Linked DNA regions of Homo sapiens. The protein of the gene in region 1 purifies or fractionates together with the protein of each later gene. This does not show direct contact. Each region holds a gene or a part of one and is shown on either strand. Other genes may lie near its edges.

Evidence for each region. Proteins that work in one complex are often made in the same cells at the same time.
Region 2: the proteins of UBXN8 (region 1) and TMEM165 purify together in Homo sapiens (affinity purification with mass spectrometry, with the first as the bait; one large-scale study listed by BioGRID). This does not show direct contact.

What each region holds. Positions count from the first base shown.
Region 1 is NC_000008.11:30,764,335-30,767,506, reverse strand, and holds the end of UBXN8 (UBX domain-containing protein 8), read right to left. Parts: intron 1,281-3,172; coding exon 1,113-1,280; 3' UTR 501-1,112; downstream 1-500. UniProt on the Homo sapiens protein: Involved in endoplasmic reticulum-associated degradation (ERAD) for misfolded lumenal proteins, possibly by tethering VCP to the endoplasmic reticulum membrane. May play a role in reproduction.
Region 2 is NC_000004.12:55,419,957-55,423,315, forward strand, and holds part of TMEM165 (putative divalent cation/proton antiporter TMEM165 precursor), read left to right. Parts: intron 1-3,359. UniProt on the Homo sapiens protein: Putative divalent cation:proton antiporter that exchanges calcium or manganese ions for protons across the Golgi membrane.

The DNA of each region.
Region 1 (3,172 bases):
TCTGGAGTGCAGTGGCATGATCTAAGCTCACTGAAACCTCTGCTGGCCGAGTTCAAGCGATTCTCCTGCCTCAGTCTCCCAAGTAGTTGGGAATTACAGGCACCTGCTACTCAACCTGGCTAATTTTTGTATTTTTAGTAGAGATGGGATTTCACCATCTTGGCCAGGCTGGTGTTGAACTCCTGACCTCATGGCCCACCCGCCTTGGCCTCCCAAAGTGCTGGGATAATGGGCGTGAGCCACTGTGCCCTGCCTGGTCTCAATCTCTTCACCTCAAGATCTGCCCGCCTCGGCCTCTCAAAGTGCTGGGATTACAGGCGTGAGCCACCACACCCGGCCTGAGCAGACTTTTAAAACAGAGCATGAGAAAAAAAAGGAGTGAGTAGAACAAAGTTAAAAGCCTTTTATACCACATTTGGTGTCTGAACTTGGTGTTACAGTGCATGACTTTATCATTATAGGCTTATAAGCAAGAGAGGGAAATGATGAGATAGATACAGTTTTAAAAATTCACCTATATTTTAATGCTTTCATAGTTTTATTTTTTAAAATACTGATTCATTTGGAACTTTGTAACATTTAATACAAGGCAAAATTATATAAATCGCAAACATCAGTTAAGTAAACTGTAATGCACACCCAACAGAAAGAACTTTAAAGCCTCCAAGAGCTTTGAAGCTTCTTCCAAGTTTTTAATTTCACAGAAATACAGCAGAATAAACATTCCTGCGTATAAGACTTTGAAGAATTTGAATCATGAAATATTGTGTGGTAAGATGGATTGAAGAGGCAGAAAGGAAAGTTCTAAGGGTTTGTTTTCTAACACTGAGAAATCATGTCAGCTGGGAAAAAATACCAATTAATTACTGAGTACCTTACTGCATACATTTCAACCTCATTCTCATTTGGTACACTGTAAAATGGCACAGTCCACAGATTATTATATATAGAAAGCAATCCTTTTCTAATCCTATTCCCATGGATATCAATGTTCAAAGTTTACTGCCATGAGCTCAATCAAGGTATAGTGTGATTTGAAAGTGAAGCCTTTATTGTGCCAGAAGGTCATAGCATAACTGACTTCATGCAAACAGGGAGCTCTCCCTTCTTTCCTAGTTGGTCTGCTCCTTCTCCTCCAGGATGAGTACAGTGTCCACAGTTATTCCTATGTCCTCCAGCGACTGGCCTCCCTCCACTGCCAGAGGCCGTCTGGGAAAGGAAGTAGAAAGGCTGTATAGAGATATGTGGTACCCAATTCTCGTCATCCAGTCAAATAAGACCTAGAAGATGAAAAGCTTGGCTTAGTCATTATCAAATACTTTACACACCATGTCCCTTTAGACCACCATAACATTTTATAATTTTGTCAATGTAAAATCATATCCCTAGGAGTAATGAGACAGAAGTTTCATACCTTTCAAAGAAACTTTCTAGAACTTAAAGGAAAATAGCTTGCCATGAGTTCAGAGATAGGAATATTCTTTTTTTTTTTTTTTGAGATGGGAGTCTCGCTCTGTCACCCAGGCTGGAGTGCGATGGCATGATCTCGGCTCACTGAAACCTCCACCACCTGGGTTTAAGCGATTCTCCTGCCTCAGCCTTCAGAGTAGCTTGGATTATACAGGCGCCCACTACCATGCCCAGCTAATTTTTGTATTTTTAGTAGAGACGGGGTTCCACCATGTTGGCCAGGCTGGTCTTGAACTTCTGACCTCAAGTGATCTGCCTGCCTGGGCCTCCCGAAGTGCTGGGATTATGGCCGTGAGCCACTGCGCCCAGCCAAAAATTAGCCAGGCGTGGTGGCGGGCACCTGTAATCCCAGGCCCTCAGGAGGCTGAGGAGGGAGAATGATTTGAACCCAGGAGGCGGAGGTTGCAGTGAGCCGAGATCCCACCACCGCACTCCAGCCTGGGTGACAGAGCAAGACTCGGTCTCAAAACTATATATATACACACACACATATATATATATATAAAATTTTTTTTCCCGAAACATATAATGGCACAGAAATTTGAGACCAGCCTGGGTAAGATGGCGAAACCCAGTCTCTACAAAAAATACAAAAATTAGCCAGGCCTGGTGGTGCATGCCTGTAATCCCAGATACTCAGGAGGTGAGGTGCAAGGATCACCTGAGTCCGGGGAGGTTGAGGTTTCAGTGAGCTGTGATTGCACCACTGTGCTTCAGCCTTGGTGACAGAGTGAGAACCAATCTTACAAAAATAAATAAAAATAATGGTAAATTATCTGTCAGGAACACTGATCTTATTTACATTCACATTAACAAGTTATGATGGCCAGGCACAGTGGCTCACACCTGTAATCCCAGCACTTTGGAAGGATGAGGCAGGAGAATCATTTGAACCCAGGAGTTCAAGATTGGCCTGGTCAGCATAGTGAGACCTGTTCTATTTTTAAAAAAATAAAAAATATTAAAGGTTTTGTTTTGTTTTGTTTTTTGTGATGGAGTCTTGCTGTCTCCCAGACTGGAGTGCAGTGGCACGATCTTGGCTCACTGCAACCTCTGCCTCCTGGGTTCAAGCGATTCTCCTGCCTCAGCCTCCTGAGTAGCTGGGACTACAGGCACGCACCACCACGTCCGGCTAATTTTTGTATTTTTAGTAGAGACAAGGTTTCACCATGTTGGCCAGGATGGTCTTGATCTCTTGACCTCATGATCCGCTTGCCTCAGCCTCCCAAAGTGCTGGGATTACAGGCGTGAGCCATGGTACCCGGCCAAAAAACTATTAAAGTTTTAAGAATCCCTGTTTTCCCAACGCATTTGCCAAATCTGGGTACTATTTCTTTTTAATCTTTGACAGTCTAGTTAAGTAGAAAATACTGTTTCATTTTATTTGTACTTCATTGATTCTATGTGAGGCCAAACATTTTTTTCATATATTTATCTATCACTGAGTCTTCTTCGGGAAATCATGATATTCATGTGTTTCTTTCCCTGCCAGTCTACTGAGATGTTTATCTCTTCCTTGATTTAAGTTCCTTATAAAAAATAACTATCATACATAAATAGTAAAATGGGCTGGTCGTGGTGGGTCACGCCTGTAATCCCAACACTTGGGTAGGCCAAGGTGGGTGGATCACTTGAGCCCAGGAGTTTGAGACCAGCCTGGCCAACATGGCAAAACCCCATTTCTACTAAAAATAAAAAATTA
Region 2 (3,359 bases), on another chromosome or scaffold:
GTGGTAGCGGGTGCCTGTAATCCTAGCTGCTAGAGAGGCTGAGGCAGGAGAATCACTTGAAACCGGGAGGCAGAGGTTGCAGTGAGCCGAGATGGTGCCACTGCTCTCCAGCCTAGGTGACAGAGTGAGACACTATCTTAAGAAAAAAAAATATATATATATATACATATATATTTATTTATTTATTTATTTTATTTATTTATTTAATGGCTGTACCCTATATTCTTCTTGATTTCTAGCCTTTTATTGGCTCTCAGATTGCCAGAGTTGGGACTCAATAGTAAGTAACCATTTTGTTGAGGTGGTAGTGATTCTACCAGGGTGAGTTATCATGACAGCAGAATCACTGCGTTTTTCTCTCTACTCTGTGGCATAGACTCTATGCCATAGAGTGACGTGTGAAAGGCTTGAGGCTCCCTACCTACGAGACACCCTGGTCCATTCTAGCAGTATGGCACGTGCTGACTGGGTTTTGAGTCTCTTGCTGTAAAATCACATTACTGCACTTCCCTGCATTTTCTCATCCAAAAATGGGGATTACCTGCTTTGTGGATCGGTTTGCAGATGAAATAACACACGCAGGGTATCTAGCATGGTCCCCCACATGGCACATTCAGTGTTAGCCACACTTCCATACTAACTGCCCTGCGGGGATATTTAATGAGCTCTTAAATGGCAGAAATGTTGTGTCTTTTCCTGTTCCCTTAGTATTCCTATTTTTGTTGGTAATTTTTCTTATGAACCATGCAGTTGTCTAGTTCAGGCCATTTTAGTATGCAGTTTTATCTTTGCTTCCAACATGATTTAATGTTCCCAAATTGGATTTCACATAATCCTAGTGTCCTTTGAGACTTGAATTGGTTCTAGGCCAAAAAAGGGTGAGGGGGAAGGAAGAAATTCAGAGTCAAATTTGGCAAATAATATATCCCTGTCGTTTTGTTTTTTCTTTTTAAGACTTGGGCCAGGTGTGGTGGCTCACGCGTTTAATCCCAGCACTTTGGGAGGCTGAGGCAGGCAAATCACCTGAGGTCAGGAGCTCGAGACCAGCCTGGCCAACATGGTGAAAAATACAAAAATTATCCAGGCATGGTGGCCCACGCCTGTAGTCCCAGCTACTCGGGAGGCTGAGACAGGAGAATCTCTTGAACCCGGGTGAGCCGAGATCGCGCCACTGCACTCCACTCTGGTCGACAGAGCTAGATTCCATCTCAAAAAAAAAAAAAAAAAAAAAAGACGACTCAGTATACAAATAAAGACTGGAAAGTCCTATATTAAAGGAACTAGTTAAATACTAGTTTATTTTACTTAATCTAGTGAATTTTTAAATATTTTCTTTCTTTCTTTTTTTTTTTTTTTTTTTTTGAGACAGGGTCTGGCTCTGTCAACCAGGCTGGAGTGCAGTGGCACAATCTCAGCTCACCTCAACCTCCACCTCCTGGGCTCAAGCCATCCTCCCACCTCAGCCTTCTGAGTCTGGGACTACAGGTTCCCACCACCATGCCTGGCTAATTTTGTATTTTTTGTAGAGACAGGGTTTTGCCATGTTGCAGAGGCTGGTCTCGAACTCCTGAGTTCATGCAATCTGACCACCTTGGCCTCCCAAAGTGCTGAGATTACGCCCGGCCTAAATATTACTTTCAAATAGAACCATCTTCATGGGTAGCAGTTTATAATACACAAGTAGAATTTGGGAAATGTAGTCCCAGTCTTCCATTCTTCACAGTGGATGCTTCAGCCAGTTTCCTGTCTCTGCACACACACTGCCCGACAGCGGGCTTTCCCTTCTCCTTCAGAGCAGTAGCAGTTCCCTTTCTTCATTCCCACCCATCACAGTGGCAGCCCCCTCTGCCCTCCTGTATTCTGAATCCCACCCTTATAATATGCTTAGATTTTGCCTTTCTCCCAGCCGTTTTGTGAGCATTGTTCGTGTGTACCAATTTTTTCTCATCCTTTAAAAAGAAAAAAAAAAAGCCCCTTTTCTCAATTGTACATCGCAAATCCAACTCTTGCCCTCCTGCAGTGTCAGAGGACTTGGCTGTGATGGGAATAAGCCTTGGCTCTGTTCTCCTTGCATACTTAGCCCATGGGAACCCAGTTTCTGGCCTCACCAGGAATGTTGTTGTGCTTTGAGCTCCCTGTGGCCTTGCATGATGCCTCCGTTGGTCCTTACAGGAGGTGATTGGCTGGCCACCTCACTTGCTTTCTCCTGTGGACCCTTCTTTCTCTGTCCTTCCTTGAATGCTGCCTTTGTCCCTCATGATTATGCTATCAACATTCTTCTCTTTCTGCTTTCTCTGTAACAGGTTTATTGACTCTTTTTTTTGAGAGTCTTGCTCTGTCACCCAGGCTGGAGTACAGTGGCACAATCTTGGCTTGCTGCAACCTCTGCTTCCTGGGTCCAAGCGATTCTTCTGCCTCAGCCTCCCGAGTAGCTAGGATTAGAGACATGTGCCACCAAGTCTGGCTAGTTTTTGTATTTTTAGTAAAGATGGGGTTTCACCATGTTGTCCAGGTTGGTCTCAAACTCCCAACCTCAGGTGATCTGCCTGCCTCGGCCTCCCAAAGTGGTGAGATTACATGTGTGAACCATCCACCCACCCTGATTCAACTGACTCTTAACTTTAAAAATCACATTGGTCTTACCATACATAGTTCATCAATTGTGGGAGAGAAACTTGGGTGTCATGCTTTATTTATTTATTTTTTTTTTGAGATGGAGTCTCACTCTGTCACCCAGGGTGGAGTGCAGTGGCACGATCTCAGCTCACTGCAACCTCAGCCTCCTGGATTCAAGCCAATTCTCCTGCCTCAGCCTGCCCAGTAGTTGGGACTACAGGTGCCTGCCACCACACCCGGCTAATTTTTTGTATTTTTAGTAGAGACAGCATTTCACCATGTTTCAGTCTCCTGACCTCGTGATCCACCCTCCTCGGCCTCCCAAAGTGCTGGCATTACAGGCGTGAGCCACTGCACCCAGCCTATTTTTCTTTTTTTAATAAGAGATGGAGTCTTGCTTTGTCACCCAGGATGGAATTTGTAGCATAGTAGTGTGATCATAACTCACTGTAGCTTCAAACTCAGGCTCAAGTGATCCTCTCACCTCAGCCTCCTGAATAGCTGGAACTACATGCATGAACCACTGCACCATTATTTTATTTTTAAGAGACGGGATCTCGCTGTACTGCTCAGGCTAGCCTTGAACTCCTGGCCTCAAGTGATCCTTCTGCCTTAGCCTCCTGAGTGGCTGGCTCCACTCTGCTTGGCTCTGATATTTTTCCATAAAGCCTATCATTCATTTATCATGGAGGTATGTTAATTTTGCCTTCTTAATTTCTCTCAAATTCACCTGCTCTTTGCCT